Linked DNA regions of Homo sapiens: region 1 is linked to region 2. The links come from fine-mapping of genetic effects on gene expression. A gene starts in region 2. The other region holds a variant in brackets. All regions are shown on one strand. Distances are from middle to middle.

What was found. PIP is the estimated chance that this variant, and not a neighbour inherited with it, causes the effect.
Region 1: its variant is the best candidate, but not a certain one, in a credible set for the expression of FAM219B in whole blood (TOPMed, PIP 0.60).

The regions. Positions count from the first base shown.
Region 1 is chr15:75,037,457-75,040,358 of GRCh38, reverse strand. The region is part of intron 2 of PPCDC (phosphopantothenoylcysteine decarboxylase); the gene reads right to left. Among named protein-coding and RNA genes, the nearest start is that of PPCDC, 15 kb to the right of the region's middle. RefSeq lists a silencer at 2,846-2,902. The variant G/C (reference allele first, on the strand shown) is at 1,257.
Region 2 is chr15:74,905,220-74,908,121 of GRCh38, reverse strand. FAM219B (family with sequence similarity 219 member B) reads left to right here and starts at 1,271. Exons shown (of 5, transcript NM_020447.5): 1 at 1,271-1,535; 2 at 1,757-1,844; 3 at 2,891-2,902. The coding sequence starts at 1,322. RefSeq lists enhancers at 929-1,208, 1,050-1,854, 1,855-2,661 and a silencer at 1,269-1,568.

The DNA.
Region 1 (2,902 bases), 130 kb before region 2:
CGCCTGTAATCCCAGCACTTTGGGAGACTGAGGCAGGCAGATTGCTTGAGGCCAGGAGTTCAAGACCAGCCTGGGCAACGTGGTGAAACCACATCTCTAATACAAAAAAATTAGCCAGCATCGTGGCACACACCTATAGTCCCAGCTACTCTGGAGGCCAAGGTGGGAGGATCAGTTGAGCCCAGGAAGTCGAGGCTGCAGTGAGCCAAGATCATGCCACTGCACTCCAGCCTGGGTGACAAAGTGAGACCTTGTCAAGGAATAGAAGAGAAGAGAACGGCTGGGCATGGTGTCTCACGCCTGTAATCCCACTTTGGGAGGCTAAGGTGGGCAGATCACCTGAGGTGGGGAGGTCGAGATCAGCCTGACCAACAAGGAGAAACCCCATCTCTACTAAAAATACAAAATTAGCCGGGTGTGGTGGCGCATGCCTGTAATCCCAGCTACTCGGGAGGCTGAGGCAGGAGAATCGCTTGAACCTGGGAGGTGGAGGTTGCAGTGAGCTGAGATCGCACCATTGCACTCCAGCCTGGGCAACAAGAGTGAAACTCCATCTCAAAAAAAAAAAAACAAAGAAAGAAAAGAAGTAAATTCTCAAGAACAAAAAGAAGAGGAACCAACAGCAGTTAAGACGTGCCAATGCGCTTTCAGAAGATGGAAGCGAAAGGAAGCACTAGCAGAGCAGATCCTACAAGATAAGATTAGATTAGATGAGAAAAGAAAATATCCAAAGCCTACACAGTAACTGAGACACAAGCCAATTAGAGCCCAGGAGCCTAGGACTTGAGGCAGTGAGTACCACAAAGGTGAGCATGAGGCAGATAGCTGAATACAGGAGGACTTCCTGACCTGTAGAAGGAACAGCTAAAGTCCCCCCAGGTCTTCTTCCCACCCAAGGCAGCCAAACATACTACCCTTGCAGAGTTAGCACAACAGAGGTCAAAGGAGTCCTGGAGCAGAAGTGAGTATCTACAGACCAAACAGAGACCCAAGCCTGCTTCCCCTACTTGACCCTAAGAACGCAAGGTCAACCAGGCAGGAGACTACTGATAGGGTCCTTCTGGAAAAAACAAATAACCCTGGCAGTAGGGAGATGTGGTAGGGAAGGAAACCTTCAGATATGGAATTCAGAGGTCCACCAACAAAACATTTCAATACCAGATGAGTACCAAGTCCCTGGCAGTGAAGACAGAGTTTCCAATCAACTTTTGGCACCCAAATAAGAACAGCCAAGGAGTATCAGATATCTGAGGAGA[G/C]TCCTCTAGCAAGAAAGAGATTACACAAACAAACAGAAAATAGAAACCCAGAGACAATAGAGGGAGAAGAAAACTTAAAGATGAGAGACTACACCCAAGAAACAAGAACATAACACTTTTTAAAATGAGTATTCAAGGAACAAAAAAGAACTCTTAGAAATTAACATTATAAACAGTGAAATAAAAAATTCAACACAAGTCTAAAAGAAATCTTCCAGAAAGGAGAAAAAAAAAGATAAAGAAACGGATAATAGTAGAAAAAAGATGAGAAAATTGAATCAATTCAGTAGGTTAAAAAATCTGACGATTAAAGAGTTCCAGAGAGAACAGAAAAATAGGAGAAAATTACAAAAAAAAAATTAAATTAAATTTCCCAGAAGTGACGAACCCACAGGTGAGAGCCATTTACTCTGCCTCCAGGGGTCGGAGAAGGCAACCCCACTGTTAGGTTCATGAAGAAATTAGAGCGTCATGTCTATTGGTGCAGCCTGAGCCCACAGCAGCTCTTCTGGTGGCCACATCCCTCTGCTGATGTATGGAGTTTGCAATCAGCAAAAACTCAAAAAAATTATTCTCATTCATGCTGCTACTAAGCCACAAGCGCCAGGCTGTATCTGAGCAGTTATTTTTCTGGTCCCAAATGCTGTCCCTCACATGTCCCTGGTAAACTTCCCCTCACCAGAGTTGGTCTGCTGTTTGCTCAGCCTACAGAGAGCTCCTGAGAGCTCAATCCTGTTGCTCCTCCTCTCAGCCAGCACCACCATCAGTAGCCCCCAGAGACACTAATCCAAATTATGAACAGAACAAAGTCAAGGGCAGAGGCCACCCACAATGTCCACGGGCGTGGGTGTGGCAGCAGAGCAAGGGGTGAGAAAGAACCAAGAAGAAACTCTTTCCAAGTTGGATCTTTCACTGGCTATAACATGCTGACAACATCCCCAGGTGGTCTAGGGAGAGGTCCTAGGATTCCATCAAAGGCCTCATCTAAATCGAAAAATACTTTGTCTACTATCCAAAACATAAACTAAAATCGATATGCCTTGTTCCTAGTGATCCCAATCTAGCTTTTCTTAGCACTTACAAGCCTCATCTGTAGCAATTTGTGGAGCTCACCTCCTTCACCTTTTTGATAAATGGATACTAGCCATCTCCTGCCCCTGGCCCCTTTGACGTTTCCCACACTTCCTGTAGGTCACCAACCACAGTACCCTAGCACCCCAGGAGAGAACTTGCCCAGGACAGGAGATGAATCACCCAGCCTCGGTTCAGGTCCCTCCTACCACCACAAGCTCAAAAGAGAAGATGAACAAAATGAGATCAAAGAATCCCCCCATTTCTTTGTTAAAAACAACAACAACAACAACAACAGAGTCTCACTTTGTCATCTAGGCTGGAGTGCAGCGGCGCAATCTCGGCTCACTGCAACCTCCCAGGTTCAAGGAATTCTCCTGCCTCAGCCTCCCAAGTAGCTGGGATTACAGGCATGCGCCACCATGCCCAGCTAATTTTTGAATTTTTACTAGAGACAGGATTTCACCATGTTGGCCAGGCTGGTCTCGAACTCCTGAGCTAGGGCAATCCACATGCCTCTGCCTCCCAAAGTGCTGGGATTACAGGCATGAGCCACCGCGCCCAGCCCCTCCCAT
Region 2 (2,902 bases):
TCACCATGTTGGCCAAGCTGGTCTTGAACTCCCTACCTCGGGTGATCCGCCTGCCTCAGCCTCCCAAAGTGCTGGGATTACAGATGTGAGCCACTGTGCCCGGCCAGAAAACTACTTCTTTGGAGTCCACAGGCAACTGGGTACAAATTCCAGGTTTATCACTTAACTGGTAAACTTGACCAAGTCTAAGCTTCATTTGTTTAACAAGAATAACTATTGGCTTCATTGGGAGGTTATAACCATTAAATACTAAGTTGAGCTATATGAACCTGCTGTTTCTGGAGGCAAAAACAGTCTAACATCATGGGGAGTGGGGGGAATCTACCAAAATGGTAAGGATTCCTTTGTGCTTTTGATTTTTGAAAACTTCAGCCCTAAATTCTTCCTTTTCACCTCTCTTGCCCAAGGCATAGTGCCACCCAACGGTCTGCGTGGCCCTGGGAGCTCGGAGGTTGCACACTGTTGACCTACCCTATTGAAGCCAGTAAGTTAGTCAAGGGACAGCCTCATGAGATTTGGGAGTTCTACAAGGATCTGGAGTTTCTTTCCAGCCAGTCACAAGCACATCCCTTGGGGGCTAGAGAAGTCAAGAGCCCTGACACATAGCCTACCACACACAGACTCAGAGTGCACTTTCACCCTCCTTTTCAACGCCTATTTGCCTCACTGTACAATGAGTAGTGACATTGGCTCTATTTTTAAATGTGGAAACTGAGGCCTAGAGAGGGTCAGGTCCTGTCCAATGTCACAGGCACCAATTGGTGTTGGAAAGAAGGTGGGGTTTGGCGTCAGATGGATCAGCGCAAGCACTGCCTCTAGATGTGTCACCTTCACAAGGTTCTTTAACTTCTGGGGCCTGTTTCTTTTGCTAGAAAAGGTCGCTGATAACGCTTGTCCTCATATGACTCTTCAACCCAAGTCTGCTCTCTGGCAGCCCCACATGTGGGGAGACCCCCAAGGAGACACTGCGAGAAGCACAGAGTGCGGCGCGCCAGGACTCAAACCGTGGGCACCCGACCGACGCACACGCGCAGCCCCACGACAGTATCAGTATTTAATTTCCACTAGAGACAGAACTAAGCCTAACCATCACCAGGCTCAAGCCGCCTACCCCAAAACCGAGAACGGAACTGCCCGGTCCCCCCGAAAAGAAGGGCGGAACATTTCGGCCAAGTCCTCAGACTACCGAACCGGAGAGCTCCGAAAGGGGACTACCTGCGCCTGCGCACCGCCATCTTGTTAAAAGAGCCCGCCTCTCCCTCGGCCGGTCACTCTTTCGCCACGGGCGGGGTTGCACCATCCGGCAGGGCGGGGCCCGGCCATGGCGACCGCGGAGCCCAGCGGGCGCGCGTTGCGGTTGTCTACCCCGGGACCCCGGCCCAGCGGGGCTCGGGACCGCGCGCCGGGAGCTGCGGGGCCACCCTCCGGGCAGATCGGTAATAGAGCCCTCCGTCTGGGGGAGCGCACCCCCGCGGCCGTGGAAAAGCGGGGGCCATACATGGTGACGCGCGCACCCTCCATTCAAGCCAAGCTGCGTGAGTGTGGCCCGATGGTCGGGGGAGGTTTCTCCCTGGGCGGGCGGCCGCGTCCCCAGGGCGGGTTCCGGAGCTCCGCTGGGCCTCGGCCCCGGAGGGAAGGGGTTAGCTGCAGCCTGCTCTCGCCCCTCAAAATCCGTTCGGAAAGAGCGGCCTCCCAGCCTTCGGGAGACGCGGCGGAGTGGGGAAGACCCGGCTGACCCGGGTCCTTTAACTTCCAGAGAAGCACCGGGACCTGGCCAAGGCCGTTCTGCGGAGAAAAGGCATGCTGGGGGCCTCGCCGAACCGCCCAGACTCTTCAGGGAAAAGGTCTCAGCAGGCGCCACCTCCTCTGTGCCAGCAGCTTTAGAGAAGGCTTTAATCCCCAGGACGGAGGCAGGGTGCTCTGGTTTAAGGCCGAGCTAGCGATTCCCCTGATGCAACCTGTCAGGTTCACTATCTTTAAAATGGGAAGAGGAACAATCTCTCTTTTCCTTTAAGGATGTGATAGGATCAGATAAAGGGCTTCGGAATAAGGGAGTTCTGTGAGTGCACAGGCTCATTCACTATCATTCTCCTCCTCTGTTAGGGAGGAGAATGGTGGCTGGAGTCCCCAGCAATGAGGACGAAGAGCAGTGTGGGAATGGCTAGACCTGTTTTTGTTTGTTTGTTTTTAACAGAATAGTAAACTCGGAGCTGCATAGAACCTTATTCAGTGCCTCCTTTTACAGATGAGGGTTGAAACTCGGAGAAGTGAAGGTTAACCCTAACCTTTTACCCAAAGACTTGCAGTTTTTGTGTCCTCTGATTAAATAAGTGGGGAGAGGGTGCTTTTCCTAGATCAGGCAAGGGGAGGTGTGCTTTTTTCCAAGACCTATGGGAGGAGTAGAATACAGGCCGGGCGTGGTGGCTCACGACTGTAATTCCAGCACTTTGGGAAGCCGAGGCGGGTGGATCACTTGAAGTCAGGAGTTCGAGACCAGCCTGGCCAACATGGTGAAAGCCCGTCTCTATTAAAAATACAAAATTAGCTGGGCACGCCTGTAGTCCCAGCTACTCAAGAGGCTGAGGCAGGAAAATCACTTGAGCATGGTAGGCGGAGATTGCAGTGAGCCGAGATCGCGCCACTGCACTGCAGCCTGGGTGACAGGGCCAGACTCTGTCTCCAAAAAAAGAAAAAAAGAATGAGAACATACACATTCTGAGGCACTGTAGCCAGGTACATGGAGCTGCAGGCAGTGGTGGCTGTGACCAGGGAGAAGGCAAGTCAGTAGTGCAGTCAATTCTTTCTCCTTCAGGGCGAGGACTCTGCCTATCCCTGTGAAATGCCTATGCTTTCATCTATGTTTGGTCTCTTCTCCCCCGTCTCCCCTCAGGTCAGTGAAGTT